4 linked regions of the Homo sapiens genome follow. The protein of the gene in region 1 interacts with the protein of each later gene in a pairwise test. Each region holds a gene or a part of one and is shown on either strand. Other genes may lie near its edges.

Region 1 (6,935 bases):
AACACATAGAAATAGAACTGTACAATAATTTGAGTATGAGATGGCTAACTTGACCACTCCATTTTCTATTTTAACTGTTCATCTTCTAAAATTATAAAAAGGCACATAATATCCTGCTAGGAAGTTTTTAATTTGAAGAATTATTGTATAATTAGCTAGGTCATGTATTTTTGGTTCTTTAGTGTTTATGAAACTGAAGTTGTCTTTTCTTTTCACCAGCATCTTTAATAATTATTGATGCCCAATGATGATTCCTTTGTGTACTTTGTTATAGCTTTTATTGCCAGATGATATAAGAATCATGTATAGGTAACAGAAATCATGTTTTGAACATTTCTGACACTCCTACATCCCCTACATCATACACTCTTAGCCAGGTATCCATACATACCTAAAGAGTCCTTGGATGAGCTTGGGAAACAATAAATTTCCTGAAATTATAGTATACGCAAAATTGTATGTTAGAATTTTTCCTGGAAGAGGGTCCAGACCTCCACATCCTCAACAGGGACCTATCGTCTTACATAAACCAAGAAAACCCAGTCACATATTAGCAAATATTACGTTGAATCATACTCTTTAAAAAGTTATGGATGTGCATGTATATTTTCAATTAACCAACAATGAGCTTAATCACAGTAGATGAAGAATATGTAAACACTTTCTGAAAGGAGGAGTACAGACATACCCACACATCCATGTTTTATTTAAGAAGATGATCTTATGAACATTAAGTATGTGTACTATTTTAAAATAATATTCAAAAATCCACAATCCATCTGGGTTATCAAATAGTTTACTTGCTAAAGAACCTAAAGGACCACAGTAAATATACTCAGAAAAGACAAGAATATATATGTAGGAGAACTGAATCAAACAGATTTTATTCAACTTTTTAGATGAGGAAAACAAATGATACAAAATAAGTCATAAGAAATGCTTTCTTATACCACTATCTCAAACCACTTTCAATATTTTACAAAATGCTCACGCAGCAAATATGAAAAGCTTCAACACTTTCCCTTTGTAACTTGCTGCAATAAATGCAACTTTAACAAACATACAAATTTCTTCTGTATCTTAAAAGTTGAATTACTAATTTTTATGATGTTACTCATATTTTTATTCATATACTTTTAATGACATCATTACCAATACATACATTATTTTCTTTAACTTTATTTTTACAATAAGCCAACATCTGTCATGCAGCCATCAAAAATCTTACAGTAAATTACACAGGTTTGTAGTCCAATTTAGACTCCAGCTTCTTAGAATCAGCCACTTTTCTGACTGCTTTCATGAAGTCTTCCTGTACTACAAAATCATGATCAGCACGAATTGCGAACATACCTGTAGAGAATAAAACAACATGACTGCTATATATCACATATGAATTATATGTTCATTATAAGAAAAACAATATAATTCTATGGAATAAATGTGAAGCTTAGATTTATTACTTCTGAGCCAGTAGTTGTAATTTGCTAAAAACCACTATCTTTTTTCAATTAAAATCCACAGGCCGGGTGCGGTGGCTCACGCCTGTAATCCCAACACTTTGGGAGGCCAAGATGGGCAGATTGCAATGTCAAGAGATTAAGACCATCCTGGCCAACACGGTGAAACCCCATCTCTACTAAAAATACAAAAAAAAAAAAAAATTAGCTGGGCATGGTGGCGCGCGCCTGTAGTCCCAGCTACTCGGGAGGCTAAGGCAGGAGAATGGCTTGAACCCAGGAGGCGGAGGTTGCAGTGAGCTGAGATAGTGGCACTGCACTCCAGCCTGGCAACAGAGCGAGACCCCATCTCAAAAAAAAAAAAAAAAAAAAATCCATAGCGGTGTTGTGATTATGTTCTAAAACAAAAACAGGTATGACCATTATATGAATATTTAACATCCGGTTCAAGGCTGGGCACGGTGGCTCACACCTGTAATCCCAACACTTTGGGAGGCCAAGGTGGACGGATTACCTGGGGTCGGGAGTTCGAGACCAGCCTAGCCAACATGGTAAAACCCCGTTTCTACTAAAAACACAAAAATTAGCTGGGCGTAGTAGTGGGCATCTGTAACCCCAGCTACTTGGGAGGCTGAGGCAGGAGAATCGCTTGAACCCGGGAGGCAGAGGTTGCAGTGAGCCAAGATCGCACCACTGCACTCCAGTCTGGGTGACAGAGTGAGGCTCTGTCTCAAAAAAATAAAATAAAATAAAATCAGGCTTAAATGGTCCCTGTATCTGATTGTAGCTCTTAATAAAAACAAGCATAAAAAACCGAAGCAATCAAAACTACCAACACATACACATTTTAAGCGTAACTTAACTTGACAGGAAGCAATTTGCTGGAAGGCACACATTTATGGGGGAAAAAAAATCTTGAGTAAGTTTGATAGCCATTCTTTGTTAATAATCAAAAACGTTGAGAATAGGGAATCATATAGAAAGCCAACAGCGGGTTTTAGCAAAACTCGGAGTCATTATTCATGTGTTAAAATTTACCTAATTTATGTACAAATTGGTATTTTTATTTGATTCATATTTGAGTATCACAACTCAATTTTTTCCTTCAACTTTTTGACAAGTACCTTCTCAAACAGTATTTGACAAAGGGGTAAAAGTTTCCTTGTATGCAGTTTTTTAAACATTAGTTGTGTTATGGATATGGGTCCCAGATTTTGAGATAATCCTAACTCATGATAAACTAAAGCAGGTAAGTTTATTGCTATCTACTAATTAAATGAATTCTAAAATTTCCACTGAGGATCTGCCTGTATTGAATTTTCACTTACATAAAATGAGGGAGTTAATATAGAAGATTTCAAGGATTACTTCCTTTCTAGATTTCTACATAAGGAAACAATCTATGTTGTCCTAGAAACCGGGTGAATGGAAATGACTGATTTTTAAAAAATAACAAAGTTTCAAAACTTGTTTAGAAAGCTACAGTGAAACTAGGTAAGTTATTTTTGTAAACCTTGCACACATGGCTATTTTCCAAATCACTTTAGTGAATAAGTAAATCTGCACAAGAGATGCCTGGCCAGGCCTGGTAGCTTGTGCCTGTAATCCCAGCATTTTGGGAGGCCCAGGTGGGTGGATTACTTGGGCCCAGGAATTTGAGACCAGCCTGGACAACATGGTGAAACCCGTCTCTACAAAAAATACAAAAATTAGCTGGGTGTGGTGGCGCACGCCTATAGTCCCAGCTACTGGAAGATAAAGGAGAAATGATCAGGTCTGGGCTACAGGGAGCAGTGATCATGCCACTGCACTCCAGCCTGGGCCAGAGTGAGACTCCGTCTCAAAAGAAAAAATAAAATAGAGATGTATTATAATCCAAAAGAGATAATGTCAGGACCTGAACAGGAAGGGCAACTGTAGTTGAATCAAGTGTATTTTAACTTACGAAAAATGTTAACAAAAAAGCCTTCAAGTCTAAAAAGAAGATAAAAATTTCAGTATGTTTCCAGATGTGAATGTCCCACCTAGTTAAAAAAGAACTACAATTTTAATCCACACAGAAGTTATAGCTCATTTGCAATAACTAAAGGTAAATTTGTAAGAATATGTAAGGAAAAAAAGCGTATATTTTGATAGCAACAGCCTTTAGGTTCACTGCACAGCTTGCATTTGGATTACAATCTAACCAAAGCAATCTTCTGATAATAATTTGGTCTGGTTTACATTTTGGAAAGAGAATGTCATAAATTACTCTAACTTGTTCAAGCTATATGACAGTTTACCTCTAAATAGTTTAGTTTATTGATAACGCTCTGTGAGCATGATTTACCCTAATTTGCATTGACAGCATTTCTAGACGTGAACAGAAGTATCTGACCTGCATATCTGATGCAGATACTGACTCACAGCATACCCAATACCCATGAAGATACCTGTACTGAGAAGCCCTCCCTGAGCAGCCACTTTAAACACTGTGTTGAATTTACTAAGGCTAAACATGATATGAAAAGCAAGAGGAAATCACATATTCTAATACTTAAGAAAATCTATAACCTATAAAGTCAGTAACTATACTGTAGAAGTTTATTTTTTCTATTTAAAGATTCTGTATGGAAGACAAAAACTAAATGATTCTAGGTAGGGTATTAAAGCTACTTGGTACTGGAAATAAAAATAGCATCACACAATTTTTACATACCATGTAGAAGTGAAAAAAATAGTATCACACAATCCACAGAGAATTATATTTAAATACTACATTTTACACAAATGGCATGATCACATAATTCATAAATCAATCTTTCAAAACACTGCTCACAGACTAGTATTAGACAACATACACAATTCATTTTGCAGCAGATACCTCTGGTGCTGGCCCATTCTAATTCCAGCCACAGGTGTGGTAGGCAATTCTGTAGCACCTCAGACTTACTTTAGGGGGCCAGTGTTCTATTACATGCCTCTCCTTCCACATTCTGCCCTAAGGCAGGTAGAAGTGCAAAGGAGTCAACACTACCAAGGACAAATCTCATCCAATGGGGGATGAGTACTGGTAAATCAATGTTCTAGTCTCCCAACTTTCAGCTGGGTGATCCTGGAAGGCATTCTGTATGCTTCTCTGAGATCTAACCTCCCTTTCCTACAGCACCTACCTCAATGGTGCACCCTCATATTAGCTTTCCCTCTTTCCATCTCACTTGCCCTGCTTCTCCTATTTCCTGGAATCGATTCCTAAAAGAACAGCATGAACCCAAATCCTTGCAAAGTCTATGCTCCGCTTTCAGATAAACTCAAAACAGTTTCAGCAAATTTTAAAAATCAAAATCAATAGTAAAACTGTACTTTAAACCCTTACCTGCTTCAGTACAAACATTTCTCAGATCTGCTCCATTAAAGCCATCCGAAAGCTTCACAATTGCTTCATAATCTGTTTAGAAAAAATACTGGAAATTAGTTTTAAAAATTAGACCTTTACTTGATTTATGCCCACATCGAAAATTTAAACTGAAGAGCTTACTTTGAGTTTGATCAGCTAGACATCAGCTCTGTTAACTTTCCACAATATTAATATCCAAAAACTAAGACTTCTGTTAAATAAACCAGCACCAAGAAGAATTAGACACACCCCTGAAACTTTAAAAACAGGAAATATCACCAAAATCTCAAAATATCTTAATCTATTTTTATACAGTGAAATAGCTATGCACATGTGAACTCCAGATACCTGTTAAGCTGTGACTCTTATCAAAACTGTAATCAAATCTTGGATTTGAATAAACCTATAACACTCAAAACCAATTATAACAATGGAATTTACTTTGTTTACTTTAATCATACAAGCCAAATATAAAGTATAGCAAAACTGAAATGTAATCATACATAATTGTATCACATGGAATTTTTAAATGCTACAGCATGCATTAGCTAGCTTCTCTGGTTTCTGTGCAAGATTCAAGTGGTGAAGTATCAGATCTATGGTAGCAGTAATAAAGTGAGTTCTCCATCCACCCACATAACAGACATGAATCAAAGAGCTATAGGATTGGGGTAGCAACAATGGATCTGATACAGAATAGGAAGAGAAGTAAGACAGCACAGGCTACTACAGTTTGAATAACTTTGATGATGCACCGTTTGGTCAGGCAATATAGGGCATGTCGTTCTCTATTTGAAATCACACATATATTCATGAATTGTCTTTAATCAGGTTTAAGTTCATTGTAAGCTTCCTGAGAGCAAGAATTCCCAAGGCTAGCACAGTATCTGGCATCTAGCAAGAGCTCAGTATTTGTGGAAGAAACCTATACATTGACATCCTTTGTTCAGTTCGGTCTTTCCAGCTCAAAACTCTCTAACAGGGGCAATGAAGATAGTGAAATTCAACAATCAGCTATTTGTCATTATTCTGGACCATTAACTTCTAAAGAGTTTTTAAGGCTGCCTGGAAATTATACTAGATTTCCCTAGTCTGGAGGTCAGCAAACTTTTTATGTAAAGGGCCAGAGAGTAAATACTGTATGCTTTGCAAGCCATATGGTTTCTGTTGTAACTATTCAACTCAGCTATTCCAGTAGGAAAGCAGCCATAGACAACAGATAAATGAGCATGCTTGGGTTACAACAAAACTTTGTGTGTTTCCAAAAACACAGGGCAGGCAGAATTTGGTTCACAAGCCATGTTTTACTGGCCTGCACCCTAGTCCAATCCCTCACTTCCATAGATAATGACTTTATACCTTCTCCTTTGTCCTCAAATCTCTAAGAACACTTCCCTATCTTCATTCTGAACGTGCATTCTACTTCACTGAGAAAACAGAAGCATTCAGAAAAAAACACTTCCACAAGTTCCTGCACTATCTAAGAACCTGTCATCATAAGCATCTATGTACTCTGCCTTTCCTCCAGTCTCATAAAAGTACACATATATATAGGGCCAATCCCTCTTCAAGGAAAGAACATTGCCAATTTCTCTTTCTCCTAGGTCATTCCCAGTAGCATTATTAAAAAAAAAAAAAAAAGGGCAGGGGGGTCATAAACTCTTCCATCTTATAGAAAACTCTGCCAACTCCTCATCGGCATTCCCCTTCTACTTCTTCTGCCCCCTCTGTAGAACTCTTAAAAGAAATGTCTAAACTCAATGCCTCTCCTCCCAATCTCTCTGAAACCCATCTGAAATAGGCTTTCACCTCCACCACTCCCAAGAAGCTACTTTTGACAAGATTACCAATGACCTCCATATAGTTAAATCCAAAGGTCTACTCTGAGAACTCTTTATCTGACCTATTGTCAGCATTTAACAGGAATCAATTTAAAAAACAAACAAACAAACAACCAGGCCGGGTGCAGTGGCACACGCCTGTTATCCCAGAACTTTGGGTGGCCGAGGTGGGCAGATTGCTTGAGCCCAGTAGTTCAAGATCAGCCTGGGCAACATGGTGAAACCCCATCCCTACAAAAAAACAAGCCAGGGTTGGTG
Region 2 (7,439 bases), on another chromosome or scaffold:
CTTTTATTTCCTTCTCCTGCCTAATTGCCCTGGCCAGAACTTCCAACACTGTGTTGAATAGGAGTGGTGAGAGAGGGCATCCCTGTCTTGTGCCCGTTTTCAAAGGGAATGCTTCCAGTTTTTGCCCATTCAGTATGATATTGGCTGTGGGTTTGTCATAGATAGCTCTTATTATTTTGAAATACGTCCCATCAATACCTAATTTATTGAGAGTTTTTAGCATGAAGGGTTGTTGAATTTTGTCAAAGGCTTTTTCTGCATCTATTGAGATAATCGTGGTTTTTGTCCTTGGCTCTGTTTATATGCTGGATTACATTTATTGATTTGCGTCTATTAAACCAGCCTTGCATCCCAGGGATGAAGCCCACTTGATCATGGTGAATAAGCTTTTTGATGTGCTGCTGGATTCGTTTTGCCAGTATTTTATTGAGGATTTTTGCATCAATGTTCATCAAGGATATTGGTCTAAAATTCTCTTTTTTTGTTGTGTCTCTGCCAGGTTTTGGTATCAGAATGATGCTGGCCTCATAAAATGAGTTAGGGAGGATTCCCTCTTTTTCTATTGATTGGAATAGTTTCAGAAGGAATGGTACCAGTTCCTCCTTGTACCTCTGGTAGAATTCGGCTGTGAATCCATCTGGTCCTGGACTCTTTTTGGTTGGTAAGCTATTGATTATTGCCACAATTTCAGATCCTGTTATTGGTGCATTCAGAGATTCAACTTCTTCCTGGTTTAGTGTTGGGAGAGTGTATGTGTCGAGGAATTTATCCATTTCTTCTAGATTTTCTAGTTTATTTGCGTAGAGGTGTTTGTAGTATGCTCTGATGGTAGTTTGTATTTCTGTGGGATCGGTGGTGATATCCCCTGTATCATTTTTTATTGTGTCTATTTGATTCTTCTCTCTTTTTTTCTTTATTAGTTTTGCTAGCAGTCTATCAATTTTGTTAATCCTTTCAAAAAACCAGCTCCTGGATTCATTAATTTTTTGAAGGGTTTTTTGTGTCTCTATTTCCTTCAGTTCTGCTCTGATTTTAGTTATTTCTTGCCTTCTGCTAGCTTTTGAATATGTTTGCTCTTGCTTTTCTAGTTCTTTTAATTGTGATGTCAGGGTGTCAATTTTGGATCTTTCCTGCTTTCTCTTGTGGGCATTTAGTGCTATAAATTTCCCTCTACACACTGCTTTGAATGTGTCCCAGAGATTCTGGTATGTTGTGTCTCTGTTCTCGTTGGTTTCAAAGAACATCTTTATTTCTGCCTTCATTTCGTTATGTTCCAAGTAGTCATTCAGGAGCAGGTTGTTCAGTTTCCATGCAGTCGGGTGGTTTTGAGTGAGATTCTTAATCCTGAGTTCTAGTTTGATTGCACTGTGGTCTGAGAGATAGTTTGTTATAATTTCTGTTCTTTTACATTTGCTGAGGAGAGCTTTACTTCCAACTATGTGGTCAATTTTGGAATAGGTGTGGTGTGGTGCTGAAAAATATGTATATTCTCTTGATTTGGGGTGGAGAGTTCTGTAGATGTCTATTAGGTCCACTTGGTGCAGAGCTGAGTTCAATTCCTGCGTATCCTTTGTTGACTTTGTCTCGTTTATCTGTCTAATGTTGACAGTGGGGTGTTAAAGTCTCCCATTATTAATGCGTGGGAGTCTAAGTCTCTTTGTAGGTCACTCAGGACTTGCTTTATGAATCTGGGTGCTCCTGTATTGGGTGCATATATATTTAGGATAGTTAGCTCCTCTTGTTGAATTGATCCCTTTACCATTATGTAATGGCCTTCTTTGTCTCTTTTGATCTTTGTTGGTTTAAAGTCTGTTTTATCAGAGACTAGGGTTGCAACCCCTGCCTTTTTTTGTTTTCCATTTGCTTGGTAGATCTTCCTCCATCCTTTTATTTTGAGCCTATGTGTGTCTCTGCACGTGAGATGGGTTTCCTGAATACAGCACACTGATGGGTCTTGACTCTTTATCCAGTTTGCCAGTCTGTGTCTTTTAATTGGAGCATTTAGTCCATTTACATTTAAAGTTAATATTGTTATGTGTGAATTTGATCCTGTCATTATGATGTTAGCTGGTTATTTTGCTCGTTAGTTGATGCAGTTTCTTCCTAGTCTTGATGGTCTTTACATTGTGGCATGATTTTGCAGCGACTGGTACCGGTTGTTCCTTTCCATGTTTAGCACTTCCTTCAGGAGCTCTTTTAGGGCAGGCCTAGTGGTGACAAAATCTCTCAGCATTTGCTTGTCTGTAAAGTGTTTTATTTCTCCTTCACTTATGAAGCTTAGTTTGGCTGGATGTGAAATTCTGGGTTGAAAATTCTTTTCTTTAAGAATGTTGAATATTGGCCCCCACTCTCTTCTGGCTTGTAGGGTTTCTGCTGAGAGATCCGCTGTTAGTCTGATGGGCTTCCCTTTGAGGGTAACCCGACCTTTCTCTCTGGCTGCCCTTAACATTTTTTCCTTCGTTTCAACTTTGGTGAATCTGACAATTATGTGTCTTGGAGTTGCTCTTCTCGAGGAGTATCTTTCTGGCGTTCTCTGTATTTCCTGAATCTGAACGTTGGCCTGCCTTGCTAGATTGGGGAAGTTCTCCTGGATAATATCCTGCAGAGTGTTCTCCAACTTGGTTCCATTCTCCCCATCACATTCAGGTCCACCAATCAGACATAGATTTGGTCTTTTCACATAGTCCCATATTTCTTGGAGGCTTTGTTCATTTCTTTTTATTCTTTTTTCTCTAAACTTCCCTTCTCGCTTCATTTCTTTTATTTCATCTTCCATCACTGATACCCTTTCTTCCAGTTGATCGCATCGGCTCCTGAGGCTTCTGCATTCTTCACGTAGTTCTCAAGCCTTGGTTTTCAGCTCCATCAGCTCCTTTAAGCACTTCTCTGTATTGGTTATTCTAGTTATACATTCTTCTAAATTTTTTTCAAAGTTTTCAACTTCTTTGCCTTTGGTTTGAATGTCCTCCCGTAGCTCAGAGTAATTTGATCGTCTGAAGCCTTCTTCTCTCAGCTCGTCAAAGTCATTCTCCATCCAGCTTTGTTCTGTTGTTGGTGAGGAGCTGCATTCCTTTGGAGGAGGAGAGGCGCTCTGCTTTTTAGAGTTTCCAGTTTTTCTGTTCTGTTTTTTCCCCATCTTTGTGGTTTTATCTACTTTTGGTCTTTGATGATGGTGATGTACAGATGGGTTTTTGGTGTGGATGTCCTTTCTGTTTGTTAGTTTTCCTTCTAACAGACAGGACCCTCAGCTGCAGGTCTGTTGGAATACCCTGCTGTGTGAGGTGTCGGTGTGCCCCTGCTGGGGGGTGCCTCCCAGTTAGGCTGCTCAGGGGTCAGTGGTCAGGGACCCACTTGAGGAGGCAGTCTGCCCGTTCTCAGATCTGCAGCTGCGAGCTGGGAGAACCACTGCTCTCTTCAAAGCTGTCAGACAGGGACATTTAAGTCTGTAGAAGTTACTTCTGTCTTTTTGTTTGTCTGTTCCCTGCCCCCAGAGGTGGAGCCTACAGAGGCAGGCAGGCCTCCTTGAGCTGTGGTGGGCTCCACCCAGTTCGAGCTTCCCGGCTGCTTTGTTTACCTAAGCAAGCCTGGGTAATGGCGGGCGCCCCTCCCCCAGCCTCGCTGCTGCCTTGCAGTTTGATCTCAGACTGCTGTGCTAGCAATCAGCGAGACTCCCTGGGCGTATGACCCTCCCAGCCAGGTGCGGGATATAATCTCATGGTGCGCCGTTTTTTAAGCCCGTCGGAAAAGCGCAGTATTCTGGTGGGAGTGACCCGATTTTCCAGGTGCGTCCGTCACCCCTTTCTTTGACTCGGAAAGGGAACTCCCTGACCCCTTGTGCTTCCCAAGTGAGGCAATGCCTTGCCCTGCTTCGGCTCGCACACGGTGCGCGCACCCACTGACCTACACCCACTGTCTGGCACTCCCTAGTGAGATGAACCCGGTACCTCAGATGGAAATGCAGAAATCACCGTCTTCTGCGTCGCTCACGCTGGGAGCTGTAGACCGGAGCTGTTCCTATTCGGCCGTCTTGGCTCCTCCCTTGCATGTTGTCATTCTTAATGGGGGTTTGGGGAAGGAGTCTGAATAGGTTCCATGGAAGAGATGACACTTGAATTTGGAAACATGAATCATATTTTCCCAGGTATGCCGGAGAGGAAGGGCATTCCAGGTAGACAGACTTGAAACAGCCCAGTACAACCTAGGGATTGCCAAAAGTTGGTAGGCTAGAGCAGGGTTTCCTGGCCTCTGTGCTGCTGTCACTTTGGGCTGCGTAATACTCTGTGATGGAAATACTCTGTGATGGAGGCTCTCCTGTGGGTTTTAAGATGTTTAGCAGCATCCTTGGTCTCTACCCTCTAAATGCTAATAGAGGGTAGATGCACCCCTTCTGTAGCTGACAACCAACATGTCTTTGGACTTTGTTATCTGTTCCCTGAGCAGCAAAATCACCCTCAGTTGAGAACCAGTAGGTGAGAGAATGGGGTCGGAGTTGGGGGCCCAGGGAAAGAAAAATCTGATAAAGTCGGCAGGAGCAAACCAAGAAGGGCCTTGGGAGCCAGGCCCTGGAGTGTGTCCTGGAGAGATGGGGGTGGCCAGAGTGGGGTCTCCCTTGAAAGCAGTGAAGGATCCCCAAGGAGACAGTGAACAGGGGGATGGGTGAGGTTGGCTGTCCCTCCCCCCCACCCCGACAGACCCTCGTTTGGGTTTCATGATACAAAGGATTTAAGGCAGTTTCTGGAACCTGACTTTGAAAGTTGAGAAGTTTCTGTGTGTAACCACTCCTACCATGACCCCTAGTGCCATGGAGAGATTCTTGAGAGTTGATGTGACCCCACTTGGAGTTTTTTAGGAACTGCCCCGACACTTGCCAGTTGTGACCCCCATGGGCATGCAGAAGCCAACTCACAGGCCAGGCCACGGCCTCCTGACTGCCTAGCACGTCCCCCACAGAGCCACACTTCATGGGCTGTCTGCTTTGTACTTGAGTTTATTTCACAAAACCACGGAGAAAGATACTGAAATGGAGCTCTTTCCAGCCTCCAAGCAAGGAGGCCCCAGCAGCCAGTCTCCAGCCCCTTGAGCCCTTTTTGTTAGGCCCACACCCAAAAGAGGAGAACCAGTGTGTGCGCGAAGGTACATGGCAAGGCACTTTTGAAAACATCCCAGTTTACCGTGGTGAAATTGAACTTACTCTGAAACAGATGAAAAGGGACATGCAAAATTGCTGAGCACGTGGAGGTGTTAGTAGGTGAAAATCATGTCCTGGGTATAACCCAGCTTCTCCAGGTTAGGGTGAGCCGCCGTCTGGATTAGTGGTGGCGGGCCACACACCAGGATGAGCGTGGACTTCGCTGGAGGAGGAAGGTGCTCCTTGATCATGTCGGCAGTAACGAAGCCTGAGCTGTACTTCCAGCCTGAAATGAAGGAGATGCAGGAGCAAGCTGAGCGATGCCAGGTGGAGTTCCTGATCCCAGGCCGCCTGCACACCCACCCTCAGCCAGGGAGGAGGTGACAAGCTGCTCTACAAAGGCTTAGAAGTCTGTACTACTGCTCCCTGCAAAAAGCCTCAGAACTAGTAAACAGCCCTCTGCAGCAATCACCCCAGGTCCCAGGCTCACTGCAGGGACCCTGAAGCCCTGCTGCTGTCTGTCAGCTGTCAGCATTGACGAGGAAGGAGAACACAACGAGGTATACCGAGGTGTGTGAATCAGTACAGCCAGCTGGAGTTGTCCGGCAGGGTGTGGCCTGGTGTTAGTGGAACTGCGCAGAATTGCTCAGTAGGGTAGCGCCCTCTGCCGACCAGGGACCTGTATGACAAGCAGGTACAGCCGGGAGCAGTGTGAGAGGCGCGCCTGTGGGGTGCTCTGTGCACAGTGGTTGCTGGGATGCTGTCTGGGCTGCAGCAGCTGTCTGGGGGCTCAGCATGTCCAGGTGAGGTGGGCGGTAAGGGGTGTGGTGGCCGTAAGCAGAAGGGTGAGTGGTGAAGGGGTCAGTGCCCATATTAGATGTGTATGTGATGGCTGTGTGGAATGGGTGGGTGTTCACAGTGGACAGGGGCAGTGTCCCTTTTGATGTTCAGTGCAGCGTGAGGTGCTGCTGATGTATTAGACACCTGCTCTCGATTGCCCTTAAAAGCAGGCCATCCCAAATCCTTTCTCCCTCAATTTCTCACATTTCCCATCTGGAGCCAGAGCCCCAGGCTTAACCCCCACATCTGGTCCTACAAAACTAAAACAAAACAAAGAGACAGAGACCAGTCCTCAAAGTGGTCAAGGGTTGGTGCTGACCCATGGTGAGTGAGGGCAATGGATGTCGTACCAATGGGAGGCCTGTCCAGGGTGTACCACAGGTTGAACTGGTCTGGGTGAGTCCTGGCAATTTCTTCAAGCTCTTTTCTGACCAAGATATCCTCCTCTGTCTAGAAAAGAAGCAACACTGAAAAAGCCCCTCCAGGGCCATCCTCTTGTTCCCTGGACTGACTACACCGGTCAGCATACTCCTGGCCAAAGCTGCCACCACTCCAGCTGGAGTGCTCGCTGCCAACTCCCACGGCAAACAAGAGTTCTGCTGCTGCTCCTGAAGCTCAAACCCTTTGTTTTGTGGATGAAGTTCCTCCATGTGGATGAAGAACCTCCATGGGATGTAGGTTCCCATGGAGCTGCAGTGACCGCCTCCAACTAGAAGGACCTTAGCCAAGCGCTGGCCAGGATGGCTTCACTCGGAGCTCCAGCCCTGCCTCCTACATCTACACTGAGCTCTAGCACAGCAAACCTAACTGGAACAAGCTCAGTGCAGGCCCAGGATCTTCTGGAAGAAATGTAATGGGCTCAGAAAGTCCTGTGATAGAACAGCACTGGATATGTGAAGGAGAGGAAAACAGTCTGGAGCCCCATTTGGGGGAAAGGGAACCAAAGCCAAAAATAACCTGTCACAGCCTCAAAGATAACTGCACAGAAGACCTGGATCTTAAAACTCCTCATGATTCTCATCCCAGTCATTCCACTTCTGGGATTCTGTTTTAGAAAATAATCTAAAAGTAATCAAGCGTAGGCACAATTATTCATCACCATATTATTTAGAACTGAAAACAGCCTGAATGTGGAAGTTAGTAAATTATAGTGCAACTTGATAAAAACTATGATGAAAATATTTATAAAGCATCTTAAAGAGAAGAAAATGCCTGTTGTGGTAATGCTGAGTGAAAAAAAAAAAGCATATATAAATTACAAATATATAACATATATAGAAAAAAGATTTAAAAAGTAAGTAAATATTTATATTCTGTATTTTCTGAAGTGTCCACTGAGGACATCTGTGATTTTACACTTAGCAAAAATACAGCAGTACATCTTAAGGAAAAAAGGAATGCTTAGTGCTTAGGGCTGGCTGAGGAGACACAAAAGAGTTAAATACATGCAAAAAGCAGGCCTGGACTCAGC
Region 3 (7,990 bases), on another chromosome or scaffold:
CCCTATTGCCCAGGCTTAAATGCAGTGTCATGATCTCGGCTCACTGCAACCTCTAATTACCTGGTTCAAGCAATTGTTCCACCTCAGTCTCCTGAGTAGCTGAGGCTACAGGTGCATGCCCACCACGTCTGGCTCATTTTTGTATTTTTTGGTAGAGATGGGGTTTCACCATGTCTGTGACCAGACTGGTCTCAAACTCCAGACCTCAAGTTATCCACCAGCCTCGCCCTCCCAAAGTGCTGGGATTACAGGCATGAGCCACTGTGCCCAGCTGAGAAAGAGTTTTTTTAAAAAGTAATATTTAGTTAGAAGAAAATGACTTGGCCAAGTGCAGTGGATCATGCCTGTAATCCCAGCACTTGCGGGCTAAGGTGGGTGGGTCACCTGAGGTCAGGAGTTCGAGACCAGCCTGGCCAACATGGTGAAACCCCGTCTCTACTAAAAATACAAAAATTAGCCGGGCAGGGTGGTGCATGCCTGTAGCCCCGCTACTCGGGAGGCTGAGGCAGGAGAATCACTTGAACTCAGGAGGCGGAGGATGCAGTGAGCCAAGATCACGCCACTGCACTCCAGCTTAGGCAACAAGGCAATAGAGCGAGACTCTGTCTCAAAAAAAAAAAAAAGAAAAGAAAATGACTTGGTAATTAAAATGTTCAAGTTCTATTTCATGCTATTCTAATTTACAAAATCCATAACAAGCAAGGGCTGATGTATTTTAAAATCATTCCTCTATGGCTGGGCGTGGTCGCACATGTCTGTAATCCCAGCACTTTGGGAGGCCAAGGCAGGCAGATCGCCTGAGGTCAGGAGTTCAAAACCAGCCTGGCCAACATGGTGAAACCCCATCTATACTAAAAATACAAAAATTCGACGGGCATGGTGGCAGGCATCTGTAATCCCAGCTACTAAGGAGGCTGAGGCAGGATAATCATTTGAACCCAGGAGGCAGACGTTGCCATGAGGCAAGATCATGCCACTGTGCTGGAGCCTGGGTGACAAAGTAAGACTCCATCTCAAAAAAAATCATTCCTGGGCCGGGCACGGTGGCTCACACCTGTAATCCCAGCACTTTAGGAGGCCAAGATAGGCAGATCACGAGGTCAGGAGATCGACACCATCCTGGCTAATACGGTGAAACCCTGTCTCTACTGAAAATACAAAAAAATTAGCCAGGCGTGGTGGCGGGTGCCTGTCGTTCCAGCTACTTGGGAGGCTGAGGTAGGAGAATGGTGTGAACCCAGGAGGTGGAGCTTGCAGTGAGCGGAGATTGAGCCACTGAACTCCAGCCTGGGCGACAGAGTGAGACTCCATCTCAAAAAAAAAAAAAAAAAAAAAAAAAATTCATTCCTCTACCAAGCTCAAGAGAAATTCTAAGACATTTTCATATTTCTCAACTGATTCCAATGTTAGAAATACAGAACCATATATGTTGATTTTGCCTCTAGGTCATGGGTCTTCCTTAATCATTATCTTTCCTTACTGGAAGAAAAACCAACAACTGCAAAACTAAATCTGTTAGGCTTTGGGAACAAGAAAGAGCAAGAAGGCTGAGAATTTGGGGCAAACAAGGAATAGGACAGAACAAAACAAGCTGTGAAACACTAATAATGGGCCAGGCATGGTGGCTCACATCTGTAATCCCAGTACTTTGGGAGGTCGAGGTAGGAGGATTGCTTGAGGCCAGGACCTCGAAATCAGCCTGGGCAAACAACTCTTTTAAAATTAGAGACCTCGTCTCTATAAAAAAATTTTAAAATGAAACGCTAACAGTGCGTATCTTCCAAAATCATCCAGTGCTCTAATTCCATGAATATAAGCTTAAATGAGCAGAAACTAAACTAAAACTAAAAATTAAAACCAAATGTCAAAGGACCCAAAAAGCTAATCTGAACAGATTTTACCTCTAATGCCAAGGCAGTCTTGTCATAAGCACAGGGTACTCTTTTCTGGATTGCTTTCGCAAAGACAGGTCCATTCTGTGTGGATGGCAAAGGGGTGATTGCTGCCCCAGGAGAACCGGAAACTGCAGGTAGAGGAGTTGTGGTCTGAGGTTGAGCGTATGCATGAGCAGGTTCTGGGATCCCATAACTGTTGGAATTCCTATTTCCATGCTTTCCGTGTGGTGAGGATCTCACAAGCTTTTCGACATAAGGGACAGGAATCATCCCAACCCGGCCATCCTTGTTCCGGGCACTCCACCACTGTTCTTCAGGCTTCTCTATTATCACTAGGATCTCACCCTTTTTAAAGGGCAGGTCTTCGGCATCATTCCCAGGAAAATCATACAGAGTCCGTACATATTCCAGGTTATCTTCTGCTGTAGGCAGGTTGGGTGCTGAGACAGATCCCATTGGTGGGCTTGGATACCTTAAGAGAGAAAGAAAATTACTCTAAGAGAAAAATCTTACTCTAAGCCAGTGCCTGTCAAACTTCTTAATATACCACTCTCCTCTATAATAAATTATTTTCCTTTTTTATGAGACAAGTTTTGCTCTTGTCGCCCAGGCTGGAGTGCAATAGCGTGATCTTAGCTCACTGCAAACTCTGCCTCCCAGGTTCAAGTGATGCTCCTGCCTCAGCCTCCTGAGTAGCTGGGATTACAGGCGCCCACTACCACGCCCAGGTAACTTTTTTTATTTTTAGTAGAGAAGGGGTTTCACCATGTTGGCCAGGCTGGTCTTGAACTCCTGACCTCGGGCGATCCACGCACCTCGGCCTCCCAACGTGCTGGGATTACAAGCATGAGCCACCATGCCCGGCCTCTACATTTTTTTTGGAGATGGAGTCTTGTTCTGTTGCCCAGGCTGGAGTGCAGTGGCAGGATCTCAGCTCACTGCAACCTCTGCATCCCAAGTTCAAGCAATTCTCCTGCCTCAGCCTCCTGAGTAGCTGGGACTACAGGCACATGCCACCACGCCCCGCTAATTTTTTCTATTTTTAGTAGAGACGGAATTTCACCTTGTTAGCCAGGATGGTCTTGATCTCCTGACCTCGTGATCTGCCTGCCTCGGCCTCCCAAAGTGCTGGGATTACAGGTGTGAGCCACTGAGCCCAGCCTTTTTTTTGGAGACAGAATCTTGCTCTGTCACCCAGGCTGGAGTGCAGTAGCGCAATTTCAGTTCACTGTAACCTCTACCTCCCGTGTTCAAGTGATTTTTCTGCCTCAGCCTCCCGAGTAGCTGAGATTACAGATGTGCAACACCATACCCAGCTAAATTTTGTATTTTTAGTAGAGACAGGATTTTGGCATGTTGGCCAGGCTGGTCTCAAACTCCTGCTGGCCTCATGTGATCCACCCGCCTCAGCCTCCCAAAGTGCTGTCATTACAGGTGTGAGCCACCACGCCTGGCTTTATTTTCCTTTCTATATTCTTAGTAGTTAAGAAGGTTCTATCATGTTGTAATTTTTGTAGTCTGTACTGTCCCAAAAGTTACTATTCTGAATGTCTTTTCAAATTACAAGTATACACACACACATACACTCCATCTCTGTTTTACAGAAACCTTTTGATTACACAGAGATACCTGGTTTAAATTTATTTTTATAATCTCAAGTAAGTTCGGAAGCTGCCTTCCTTTGGACCCTTGTCACAACCACCACACACTCTTCCTCCCAGTCCTAATCTATGGCTTACATCCTGCACACTTCCCTGGACACACAGAAAATGACAAAGGCCTCTGCCTCTGGCCTCTTGAAAAAAAAGGAACAAAAAAGGGCTTACAGACTTGCCAAATTAAAAATAATAAATCCACCAGGCGTGGTGGCTCAGACCTGTAATCCCAGCACCTTGGGAGGCCAAGGCAGGCAGATGACTTGGAGACCTGCCTGTCCAACATATCAAAACCCTGTCTCTACTAAACAGACAAAAAATGAGCCGGGCATAGTGGCACACACCTGCGGTCCCAGATACTCAAGAGGCTGAGGCAGGAGCATTACTTGAGCCCAGGAGTTAGAAGCTGCAGTGAGCTATGACTGCATCATTACACTCCAGCCTGGGCAACAGAACAAGACTGTCTCAAAACATAAATAAATAAGAGGCCGGCGCAGTGGCTCATGCCTGTAATCCCAGCACTTTGGGAGGCTGAGGTGGGCGGATCATGAGGTCAGGAGATCGAGACCATCCTGGCTAACACGGTGAAACCCCGTCTCTACTAAAAATACAAAAAATTAGCCGGGCATGGTGGTGGGTGCCTGTAGTCCCACTTACTCAGGAGGCTGAGGCAGGAGAACGGTGTGAGCCCGGGAGGCGGAGCTTGCAGTGAGCCAAGATTGCACCACTGCACTCCAGCCTGGGTGACAGAGCGAGACTCCGTCTCAAAAAAATAAAATAAAATAAAATAAAAATAAAAATAAATAGCTAGCAAGAGTAGTAGGAGCAAGAGTAATAATAAAGAGCTCATACTTATTATCTATGCTAGGCATGGTTTACGATCTTTGAAGAGATTGGATTATTTAATAGTCTGTGAGGTAGATGCTGTTATTATCCCCATTTTACAAATGAGGAGCCAAAGAAGAGGTTAGACTTGCACTCAGGGAGTCTGGTTCTAAACTCTTCACTCATAATGAGCTAATCAGCCTTAGGGACGAACCCTGCATCTGTCAGGTGTATGAGAATTAATGGCATAATGCATGTGAGGCATTCAAAATTACCGAGCAGCACCAAGCATCCAATGTACCGACATGAACACACACATACCCCTTCAAGTATATCCCTGCTTCTATTTCTTTCTCTTTTTTTTGAGACAGGGTCTTGCTGTCATCCTGGCTGGAGTGCAGAGTGGCACAACCACAGCTCACTGTAGCCTCCACTTCCCAAGCTCAAGTGATCCTCCCACTTCAGCCTCCTGAGTAGCTGGGACTACAGGCAGTTGCCATCACACACAGCCAATTTTTAAATTTTCTGTAGAGATGGGGGTCTCACTATGTTTTCAGGGCTTGTCTTGAACTTCTAGCCTCAAGCAATTCTCTCGCCTTGGCCTCCCAAAGTGTTGGGATTACAGGTGTGAGCCATCACACCCAGCCCCTGCTATTTCAAGAGCCACAGAGAGCCTGTGAACAGTCCAGTAAGTACCATATAAATTTCAGACACTATTAAGAGCACAGTCAGTTCCACCTTAGACTCCATCCAAGAGTATTTTATTATTTGTATAGTTAAAAGCAGTTAGCCAGTGTGTGGTGGCTCACGCCTGTAATCCCAGCACTTTGGGAGGCTGAGGTGGACGGATCACAAGGTCAGGAGATTGAGACCATCCTGGCTAACACGGTGAAACCCTGTCTCTCTACTAAAAATACAAAAAATTAGCCAGGTGTGGTGGCACACGCCTGTAGTCCCAGCCACTCGGGAGGCTGAGGCAGGAGAATGGTGTAAACCCGGGAGGCGGAGCTTGCAGTGAGCCAAGATCACGTCACTGCCTGAAACAGTTAAGACTCTATCTCAAAAAAAAAAAAAAAAAAAAAAAAAAAAAGCCAGGCGTGTGGTGGCTCACGCCTGTAATCCCAACACTGGGAGGCCGAGGCGGGAGGATCACTTGAGGTCAGGAGTTCAAGACCAACCTGGCCAACATGACAAAAAACCCTGTCACTACTAAAAATACAAAAGTTAGCCAGGTGTGGTGGCGTGCGCCTGTAGGCCCAGCTACTTGGGAGGCCGAGGGAAGAGAATTGCTTGAACCTGGGAGGCAGAGGTTGCAATGAGCTGAGATCACACCACTGCACTCCAGCCTGGGTGACAGAGCAAGACTCCATCTTAAAAACAAACAAAAAAAAGAAGATAGCCAAGCCCATTCATTTACGTATTGTCTATGACTGTTTTTCACTACAAAGGCATAGTTGAGTAGTTGGACAGAGACTCTATGGAAAAGCTGAAAATATTTAAAATCTGACCCTTTACTCAACAGTTTGCTGATCCCCCATCTAAATTCCTGGGTTAGGGAGGCAAAGTGTGCTTTTCAACTTCCTTGCTTCCCTGGTGAGGGGTATGTCTGTGTAGAAATTTGATAAAGATAGTTTCTATTTCCCTCCACTACTATACTGCTATAGTGACCTTGGGGCTCATTTTCTGTGTTAGTATCTGCAGAGATATTCATAAATTTGACACCAAATCAATCTCACCAGCCATAACCCTGACACAAATTCCAAGTCCTCTGCCCTATATTCTCAAACTCATTTATTCATCAAACTCCCCTGAAAATTACACATTAGTTCCACTGAAGAGATAAATACATGTTGCTCCATGTCAGATATCTTAGCCTTTCCATTAGACCCCACTGTCTAAAGAAATATGAAGCATATTCATCAGAAAATTTATTGCTTCCCAATTATTTGTTCTTTGAGCAAGGTTGAAAATAGCACCCTCCCCCAACTTCCCTTTAAAATATAAAGTGTTGCCCAGGCGCAGTGGCTCATGCCTGCAATCCTAGCACTTTGGAAGGCCGAGGCAGGTGGATCATGAGGTCAGGAGTTTGAGACCAACCTGGCCAACATGACAAAACCCTGTCACTATTAAAATACAAAAATTAGCCAGGTGTGGTGGCGTGTGCCTGTAGGCCCAGCTACTTGGGAGGCTGAGGCAAGAGAATTGCTTGAACCCGGGAGGCGGAGGTTGCAGTGAGCTGAGATCATGCCACTGCACTCCAGCCTGGGCGACAGACAGAGATTCCGTCTCAAAAAATTAAATAGATAAGGCAGGTGCAGTGGCTCACGCCTGTAATCCCAGCACTTTGGGAGGCCAAGGCGGGCGGATCAAGAGGTCAGGAGATCGAGACCATCCTGGCTAACACAGTGAAACCCCATCTCTACTAAAAATACAAAAAAATTAGCTGAGCGTGGTGGCAGGCGCCTGTAGTCCCAGCTACTCGGGAGGCTGAGGCAGGAGAATGGTGTGAACCCGGGAGGCAGAGCTTGCAGTGAGCCGAGATCGCGCCACTGCACTCCAGTCTGGGTAACAGAGTGAGACTCCGACTCAAAAATAAATAAATAAAATAAAATAAAATAAAATGCACAGGGTTTTCAAGCCCATCCAAACACCCTTGACCATGCTTCTCACTTTTTGCCTATTGTCCACTACACACTTTGAGCAGCAAAGCCCCTAACAACTAATTCGTAACTGACTTTTCTTTTCTGATGATAACGAATCTCTCAGCTCTTTTGGTTAAAAGCGTTCTCAGTTTCTACATGTATAAACCATACACAAAACATCTTTAAACCAAGTGCTAATATGTTCTAAGCTTAAAATCTCCTTATGCATGCTAAGAACCAATACAATCAACTTCTAGAAAAAGGAAGTTTCAAAGGTGCTGGTAATATTCCTTTTTTTTTTTTTTTTTTTTTTTTTGAGATGGGATCTCGTTCTGTTGCCCGAGCTAGAGTGCAGAGGCACAATCATGGCTCATTGCAGCCTCAACCTCCAAGGCTCAAGCGATCCTCCCACCTCAGCCTTCTGTGTAGCTGGGACTACAGGTGCATGCCACCACATCCGATTAATTTTTGTATTTTTGGTAGAAACAGGGTCTTGCCATGTTGTCTAAGCTGGTCTTGAACTCCTGAGCTCAAGCAATCTTCCCACCTCAGCCTCCCAAAGTCCTGGGATTACAGTCTGGGCCACCACGCCTGGCCAATGTTTTATTTATTTATTTTTTAAAGGGAGCACACAGATGATAGTTTTTTTTGGCTTGTTTTGTAAATTTTTTTGAGATAGCGTCTTGCTCTATGGCCCAGGCTGGAGTGCAGCAGTACGATCATGGCTCACTATAGCCTTGACCTCCCAGGCTCAAGTGATCCTCCCACCTCAGCCTCCCATGTAGCTGGGACTACAGGCATGAGCCACCATGCCCAGCCAATCCTTGTTTAATTTTTTGCAGAGATGGGGGTTTATGTTGCCCAGGCTGGTCTTGAACTCCTGGGCTCAAGCAATCCTCCTACCTCAGCCTCCCCACTATTTGGGACTACAGGTGCATGCCACCACACCCAGCTTACATATACTTTTTTTTTG
Region 4 (7,990 bases), on another chromosome or scaffold:
GAGCTGTGATCATATCACTACATTCCCAGTCCCGCAAAAGTTTCCTGATCATGGATAGAGTGAGACCCTGTCTCAAAAAAAAACAGGATTTAAGATGGGGCCTAACTGTGATGGCTAGTGTCCTTACAGGAGAGAGGGGAGGGAGATTTGAGACTCAGAAGAGAGACAGACAGAGAAGAAACCCCTTTAAAGACAGAGGCAGAGATTGGGGTGATGCATCTACCCACCAATGACACCCAGGATTGCCAGGAGTTACCTAAGGCTAGGACAGAGGCATAGAATGAACCCCTCCCTACAGCCTTCAGAGGGAGCGTGGCCCTGCCAACACCTTGGTTTTGGACTTGTGAACTCCTGAACTGTGAGACAATAAATTTTTGTTGTTTTAGGCCATGTAGTTTGTGGTAACTCATTACTGCAGCCCCAAGAAACAAATACAGTTGGATCCTGTTAGAAGTCCCATTTCCCAGATGGGGAAACTCAGGTTCCAGACCCTGTGCTCCTCCCCAAGACACCAGCCACCTCTCAGCAGAGCACCCCGTGCTTTCTCGATTTTGCACCGGCTGCCATTGGGCAGGTGAGCACTTCATTACATGAGACCCTGTGTGTCTTTCCTCTGCCCTGTCCTGCAGGGTCCCTGAGGCTGGGGACCAGCAGCCCAGTATGTCCTCCGCTGTATCCCCAGAAGCCTGGCACGCAGTGGACACTCAGTGCTGCTTGGTGAGCGAATGAGTGGTCCAGAAAATGCAAACCTGGATGCTCTCCCCCTCCCGGCAGACAAGGGGAGCCTCCACACGGCTGTAATCCCTGCCCAGGACCCAGCCTTTGTCGATCAGCTGCCCGCTGGCCCTGGTCCCCGGTTCCCGGGCGCCCAGCCTGGGCGCCTGCTTGGTGTGGTACAGGCTGAACACCACGTCCCCTCGCAGGATGTCAAAGTCCCAGGTGATGACCGACTCTCCTTCCAGGATCTCCACGGCCACCTGTGTGGAGACAGGCGAGGTCTGAGAGTCACGGCCGAGAGAGTAGAGCTGGGGTGGGGAACACAGTGGCAGGAGGGGCTGTGGGTGCCCCCTGGGGTCTCCTTTCCCAGGCACACGCTCATTCCTTACAGGAGTGCCCTCCTCTCCTCAGTTTTCTCCTGAGACCTCGCCTGCAACAGATCACTGGCATAAGAATCCTTATCTCGGCCAGGCTTGGTGGCTCATGCCTATAATCCCAACACTTTGGGAGGCCGAGGTGGGTGGATCACTTGAGGTCAGGAGTTCGAGACCAGTCTGGCCAACATGGTGAAACCCCATCTCTACTAAAAATACAAACAAAAAAAAAATAGCCAGGCATGCTGGCTGGCACCTGTAATCCCAGCTACTCGGGAGGCTGAGGCAGAAGAATCACTTGAACCTGGGAGGCAGAAGTTGCAGTGAGCCAACATTGCGCCACTGCACTCCAGCCTTGGTGACAGAGTGAGACTCGGTCTCAAAAAAAAAAAAAAAAAAGAGGCCAGGCGCCGTGGCTCCCGCCTATAATCCCAGAACTTTGGGAGGCCTAGGCGGGCGGATCACCTGACCTCAGGATTTCAAGACCAGCCTGACCAACATGACGAAAACCCGTCTCTACTAAAAATACAAAAATTAGCTGGACGCAGTGGCATATGTCTATAATCCCAGCTACTCGGGAGGCTGAGGCATGAGAATTGCTTGAACCTGGGAGGTGGAGGTTGCAGTGAGCCAAGATTGCACCACTGCACTCCAGCCTGGGCAACAGAGCGAGACTCCATCCCAAAAAAAAAAAAAAAAAGAAAGAAAGAAAGAAAGAAAAGAAAAAAGAATCCTCATCTCAAGCTGTGTTTTGGGGTCACCTGACCTAAGACGACAGACACTCCAGCTCAGCGGGCCCTCCCCGGCCAGGCCCTGGCACCTCGTGGGGGGCTCCGCGGAGCACGCTGGCTGAATGGTAGGTCTCACTCCACTGCCACAGCTGGTCCGTGTGCTCCTGCTCCTCTTCTGTCATGTAGAGGGACTTGGGGACCAGCCCTCCTTCGGGGACATTACACTGCAGGTCAGAGATAAAGGGCAGCAGGTCAGGGCCAGTTGAGGCCTGGCTGGCCTGACCCACAGAAGGGTGATGTGTGACCCCCAAAGCCACTCATAATTGCAACCCCTTACTGAATGGGCTGTGGGCTTCCATGACCCCATTTAATCCCCAGGTCCACCAATGCAGTAGAGACTATTATTCTTCCCGTTTCACAGAGGAAGGAATGGAGGCTCGGGCAAGTCAGGCCACTCGCCCACGATCACACAGCAGAAAGTGAGTGAGCCAGGGCACAAACCCACGTTCGTCACAGCCCCATGCTCATGTCCCTTTACCCCGGTGCCGGACTGACAGCCAGGCTGGGGGGCCTCTCCACACCGCACCCCATAGCAGCTGCCTCTCCCCGTCACAGGCGGGGGTGGAACAGTCACTGCACCGTGCTCATCGAGAGATTTCCCCAAACCAAAGGCACCCTAGATGGCCAGGCCTTGGCAGAACTCCCCCTGCCACCACCAAACAATGATTACCCCCACCCCGTTTCACTTGTAGAAACACTGGGATTAGCAGGACACTGTTCAGTGTCTTTCCATAAGCCACTCTCAGATCTGCAGAACCGTTTGCTAAAAATAAGTCGTGTGTGCCGCACATCACAAACGGAGAGAACAGGCAAGCCTGGAAAAATTCCTAGGAAAAGACTTTTTTAAAATCCAGAAATGACGCAAGCTCACTGTCTGGTATTTCTGTTAGAAACAAAGAGGGCCCGGGCCACTGGGGGCCATATGAGATGACAGAGTTGTGACCTAGGATCACCCCAGCCTGTCATTTCACCCCAGGGGAGGCAATAAAAGGGGCCTGGACACTGCCTCCCTTGAAGGGGGTTCCTGATCGTTTCAGGCTGTGTGGCTGTGGGTTGGAGGCTAGTCCCAGCTCCAGGGTCCAGAGCTGCAGATACATTCGAGTCACCTCCCCTGCAGTGAATGAGCAGGTTAACTCACTGCTGCTTGGCAATGTCTTTGATGGGAATATAGAATGCGTAAGCCTTTGACTGGCCTAATCTTTAGGCTTCCAGAAACTTCTATCTCACTCACTATGTTTGAAGGACCCAGAGTAAGGCCCAACCTCAGAACAGCATCACCTCTCTTTGAAGCAGCTTCTAAAGCAAGCCCTGTGGCTGCTGAGAGCCAGCAAGACCTGCCCTAGGCAGAGTGCACATGCCGCACCCAGCCCCCCTCCACCTCCCAGCCCCACTCCGGGAATCCCAGCCTCCCAGCTAGGCATGCCCCCTCCTCAAGCCCAGGTCTGTCTGTGGACATGGAAGCCTCACCACACTCTCTCCCCCAAGGAAGTCAGGGATCACTTCTCTATCCAGATAGTCCACAAGGCCTCCGGGTCCCTGGTAGTTGCTGCCACTGTAGATGAGGAACTTCCGCCTGGTGTTCTCATTGATGAAGGGGCTGATCTGAAACCAGGACATAAGGCAAGATGGATGGTTTTTTTTTTTTTTTTTTTGAGACGGAGTCTTGCTCAGTCGCCCAGGCTGGAGTGCAGTGGCATGATCTTGGCTCACTGCAAGCTCCACCTCCCGGGTTCACGCCATCCTCCTGCCTCAGCCTCCCGAGTAGCTGGGACTACAGGCACCCACCACCATGCCCGGCTAATTTTTTTTTGTATTTTTAGTACAGACGGGGTTTCACCATGTTAGCCAGGATGGTCTCGATCTCCTGACCTCGTGATCCACCTGCCTCGGCCTCCCAAAGTGCTGGGATTACAGGTGTGAGCCACCACGCCTGACCATGGATGTATTTTTTTATTGAGATATAATTTATACAACATAGAATTAATCATTATAAAGTGCACAGTTCAGTGGCTTTCAGTGCACTCACTAGCTTGTGCAGCCAGCACCTCTACCTAGACATGTTCATCACCCCAGAAGGAAACCCCATTCCCACCCCACCGTCACTTCCCATCTCCCCTCCCCCAACCCAGGGCAACCACCCATCTACACTCTGTCTCTGTGGATTTGCCTATTCTGGGCGTTTCTTTTTTGTTTTTGTTTCGGAGACAGAGTCTCGCTCTGTCTCCCAGGCTTGAGTGCAATGGCGCAATCTTGGCTCACTGCAAGCTGCACCTCCCAGGTTCAAGTGATTCTCCTGCCTCAGCCTCCCAAGTAGCTGGGATTACAGGCTCCCACCACCATGCCTGGCTAATTTTTGTATTTTAATTTTGTACTTTTGTATTTTCACCATGTTGGCCAGGCTGGTCTTGAACTCCTGACCTCAGGTGATCCACCCACCTCGGCCTCTCAAAGTACTGGGATTACAGGCGTGAGCCACCTCGCCCAGCCCTATTCTGCACATTTCATATAAAGGAGATCACACAGTACATGGACTTCCGTGTCTGGCCCCTTTCACTGAGCATCAGGTTTTCGAGGTCCCTCCGTGTTGGAGGATCAGTGCTTCCTTCCTTCTTATGGACGAATGCTATTCCATTACATGGATGGAACAGTATTCCACAGTTTGTTTATTCCAGATGGAATCCATTTTAACACTGAGCTCTAAGCCACATGTTGATAAAGAAGGAAGGAAGTGGGAGAGAGAGAAAGAAGGAAGGAGCCCTTGGCATGGCAGATAACAGGCCAGTTCTACAGGGAATGCCACAAGCCAAGAGATAGGTGAGGAAACTGCAATCCCCCCGTGCAGGGCCCTCTCCTGTCCCCAGCCCCACTGCGCTCTGTGCTGTGCTGGGCCCCAGGAGGCTGAGGCTGACCCCCAGTAGCTCCCTGCCCCCACCCCTGTCCCAGCTTTCCCCAGGATTCTGCAAGGACATTCCCTCCTCTTGGGGGTGGCCAGGCTTACTGCAGTCACTGGTGCTTGGGGTCTCTCCTTCCCCTGCCCACACCTCTGCAAGGAGCCCCTTCAGGACACCCCTCATTTGAACCATCTGGGTGAGGTCCACTTCCAGCCAGGACCCCGGCTGATGTGCTCGCACTCCCAAAACCACCCCAAACAGCAGGTGGACTTAATTTTCCCGGAGATTAGGACAATTCAGGATAAAAAGCTTCAGAAGCAGCTCCTGCCCCCTAGCCTCACCTGAACAGAGCCTTGAAGCACCCACAAAAGCTAGAGAACTTCCTGGCCCCTAAGTCTGTCCCCCACCCTCCCCTGCTACTGAACCCTCCATGGGTCCCTATTGCCCCTGTACATCTTCCAGCCTCCTCAGGTGCTGTCGTCCCTTTTGCTCTTTTTTGCTCAGCCACCCTGGACTGTTTCTTCAGTTCCTCCAAAGCATCAAGCTGGGTCCAGCCTCCAGGCTTTTGCCCACACTATGCAAGTGGCTGGCTGCACCCTTGTTTCAGAGGAGTGTGTGTGTGGGCGTGGGTGTATGTGTGCGCGCACATGGGTGCATGCACGCGTGTACCCACCGGGTTACAATATAGAGTATATTTCAGGTCAGGCGCAGTGGCTCACACCTATAACACAAACACTTTGGGAAGCCAAGGCAAGAGGACCGCTTGAGCCCAGGAATTTGAGACCCACGATAATGGGCATGGGGGTTCTTTTTGGGGCGACAGAAATGTTCTGGGATTGGCTAGTGGTGACAATTGCTTAACTCAGTGAATACAGGAAAGACCACTGGAGTCTATACTTAAAAAGTGTGAGCTTTATGCTATGTGAGTTTCATCTCCAAAAAGTTACTAAATGAAATGAAACAGGAAAAGAGAGCAGAGCTGCTTGCAGACGGAACCCCTCCCATCCCACCCACCCCCAGGGAGAGTCCTGGCCCAGGCTCCAGCTCTTACCAGTGTCCAGAGCACGGGGAAGACTCGGGGGGCTCGCACGATGAGCAGCCGACCCAGGGTCTCTGGGTAATTGTCCTCAACCACCTCAATCATCCGCAGCAGGGCCTTCACCCCCGGCCGCCACAGGTGCCGCATGTTGAGTCCCTCCAGGTCTAGCAGGCAGGTCCAGGAGCTGTGGCAGAAATAGCCCCAGCTCCACCTGGCTCTGCTGCCTCCCAAGGCCACCAACACCCTCCCCACAGGGGATGAACAGGGAGGCTCCGAGAGATAGGGCTGGGAGCAGATGGGGGCTCCTGCCACAGTAGGGAGCCCATGCGATGAAGAGGATCAGACTGTGGACTTCAGGGCTGAGCGCCCAAATTCAAGTCTCACCTGCACCCCTGAGAGCCTTAGGTCAGGGCACAGACCCACTTACTCATAGGACAGTGGCAAAGGTAGTAACAGTCCTCATCTGAAGCAACTGCTGTTAGGATCAAGTGAGATGGTATATACAAAGCTCTCTGCAAGGACGGGCACACCACATGCCCTCAATTATAGCTGGTTATCACAAGTGGCCATTTAGGCCTAGCATTCCATTATTGCAATGCTAAGCGTGTGGGAGTTATTTCTATCCTACTGCTCAAGGTCATCACCAAGGTCTGATTGCAAAAATTCAAAACATTGCAACCTCAGGCATAAATGAGTTAATTGTTGAAAAGATGCTAACTACTAAATAGAGCAGAGGTGCTGAGAGCATGCACTCCACAGTCAGATGGCCAAGGTTCAAATCCCAGTTCTGCCACTTGCTGTGTGATCTTGGTCAAGTCCTGAACCTCTCTGTGCCTCCATTTCATTAGTATTCATTCATTAGGAAAATAACTGTTTGACTGCAGCGGCTGGTGCCCGGGAGCCTCCACCTCCCAGATTTGTTCGCTTAAACCTGCACACACCTCTCCAAAGCATCCCTTCATGACACTCCCTCATTTGAGCCATCTGGGGTGAATTATGCTTCCGGCCAGGACACTAATGGATTGATTCCCACTTCCACCCCAACATACGTGTCCTTAGAAAATCTCTAGAGACCAGCCTGGCCAACATGGTGAAACCCCATCTCTACTAAAAATACAAAAATTAGCCAGGCGTGGTGGCAGGCACCTGTAATCCCAGCTACCTGGGAGGCTGAGGCACGAGAATCACTTGAACCCAGGAGGTGGAGGTTGGAGTGAGCCAAGATTGCACCACTGTACTCCAGCCTGGGCGACAGAACGAGACTCTGTCAAAAAAAAAAAAAAAAAATCTGCAAACAGCAAAGGAACTTTAATTTTCACAAAGATCGGGATATTTGGGGCTGAAAAGCTGAAGCAGCAGCTCCTGCCTGCCCGTGTCTCACAGGGCTGTTTAGGAGGAGGAAATGAATCAAGGTGCTTAGAAGGGCACCTGCTACATAGCAAGTGCAAGATCCGTGTTTGCATTATTTTTAAACCCTTATTATTTTTGAGAATCCATTTGTAAAAGCCACTTTACAGGCTGGGAACAGAGGCTGACGCCTGTAATCCCAACCCTTTGGAAGGCCAAGGTGGGAGGATCACTTCAGCCCAGGAGTTTTAGACCAGCCTGAGCAACAGGGTGAGACCTCATCTCTGCAAAAAAAAAAATTAGCTGGGCAAGGTGGTGCACATTTATAGTCCCCGCTGCTTGGGAGGCTGAGGTGGGAGGACTGCTTGAGCCCAGCAGGTCAAGGCCGCAGTGAGCTGTGATTGCACCACTGCACTCCAGCTTGGGTGACAGAGTGAGAGCCTGTCTCAAAGGAAAAAAAAAAGCCACTTTACAGAAGAGGAAGCTGCTGCTCAGAAAGGTTTGCTGCCTTTGGGGGCGATGCCACCGTAAGTACTGGCTCCGGGAAACAGTTCAGGAACAGAAATGCGGGGGAGTCAGAGGACAGTGGGTTCCTGCAGAGGACACTGGGTTCCTGGATGTGCCATGACAGAGCCAAGGGAGAACTCGTGGTGGAGAGCTGATCTCAAAAAGCAAAGTCAGGCTGTGAGTGGTGGCTCACGCCTGTAATCCCAGCACTTTGGGAGGCCGAGGCAGGCGGATCACGAGGTCAGGAGACCGAGACCATTCTGGCTAACACAGTGAAACCCTGTCTCTACTAAAAATACAAAAAAATTAGTCAGGCGTGGTGGC

What was found.
Region 2: the proteins of PSMC6 (region 1) and CYB5R2 interact in binary tests that used the Homo sapiens proteins (3 or more experiments, as listed by UniProt).
Region 3: the proteins of PSMC6 (region 1) and CRKL interact in binary tests that used the Homo sapiens proteins (3 or more experiments, as listed by UniProt).
Region 4: the proteins of PSMC6 (region 1) and SEC14L5 interact in binary tests that used the Homo sapiens proteins (3 or more experiments, as listed by UniProt).

Annotation. Positions count from the first base shown.
Region 1 is NC_000014.9:52,721,917-52,728,851, reverse strand, and holds the end of PSMC6 (26S proteasome regulatory subunit 10B), read right to left. Parts: intron 5,048-6,935; coding exon of another isoform or gene 5,025-5,047; exon of another isoform or gene 4,978-5,024; intron 4,888-4,977; coding exon 4,816-4,887; exon of another isoform or gene 4,812-4,815; intron 1,354-4,811; coding exon 1,235-1,353; 3' UTR 262-1,234; downstream 1-261. UniProt on the Homo sapiens protein: Component of the 26S proteasome, a multiprotein complex involved in the ATP-dependent degradation of ubiquitinated proteins.
Region 2 is NC_000011.10:7,660,133-7,667,571, forward strand, and holds the end of CYB5R2 (NADH-cytochrome b5 reductase 2), read right to left. Parts: intron 7,173-7,439; exon of another isoform or gene 6,480-7,172; coding exon of another isoform or gene 6,423-6,479; intron 6,419-6,422; coding exon 6,319-6,418; coding exon of another isoform or gene 6,255-6,318; intron 5,808-6,254; coding exon of another isoform or gene 5,708-5,807; exon of another isoform or gene 5,695-5,707; intron 5,415-5,694; coding exon 5,242-5,414; 3' UTR 4,972-5,241; downstream 1-4,971. UniProt on the Homo sapiens protein: NADH-cytochrome b5 reductases are involved in desaturation and elongation of fatty acids, cholesterol biosynthesis, drug metabolism, and, in erythrocyte, methemoglobin reduction.
Region 3 is NC_000022.11:20,928,156-20,936,145, reverse strand, and holds part of CRKL (crk-like protein), read right to left. Parts: intron 2,368-7,990; coding exon 1,902-2,367; intron 1-1,901. UniProt on the Homo sapiens protein: May mediate the transduction of intracellular signals.
Region 4 is NC_000016.10:5,001,408-5,009,397, reverse strand, and holds part of SEC14L5 (SEC14-like protein 5), read right to left. Parts: intron 5,997-7,990; coding exon 5,825-5,996; intron 3,485-5,824; coding exon 3,350-3,484; intron 2,047-3,349; coding exon 1,912-2,046; intron 978-1,911; coding exon 750-977; intron 1-749.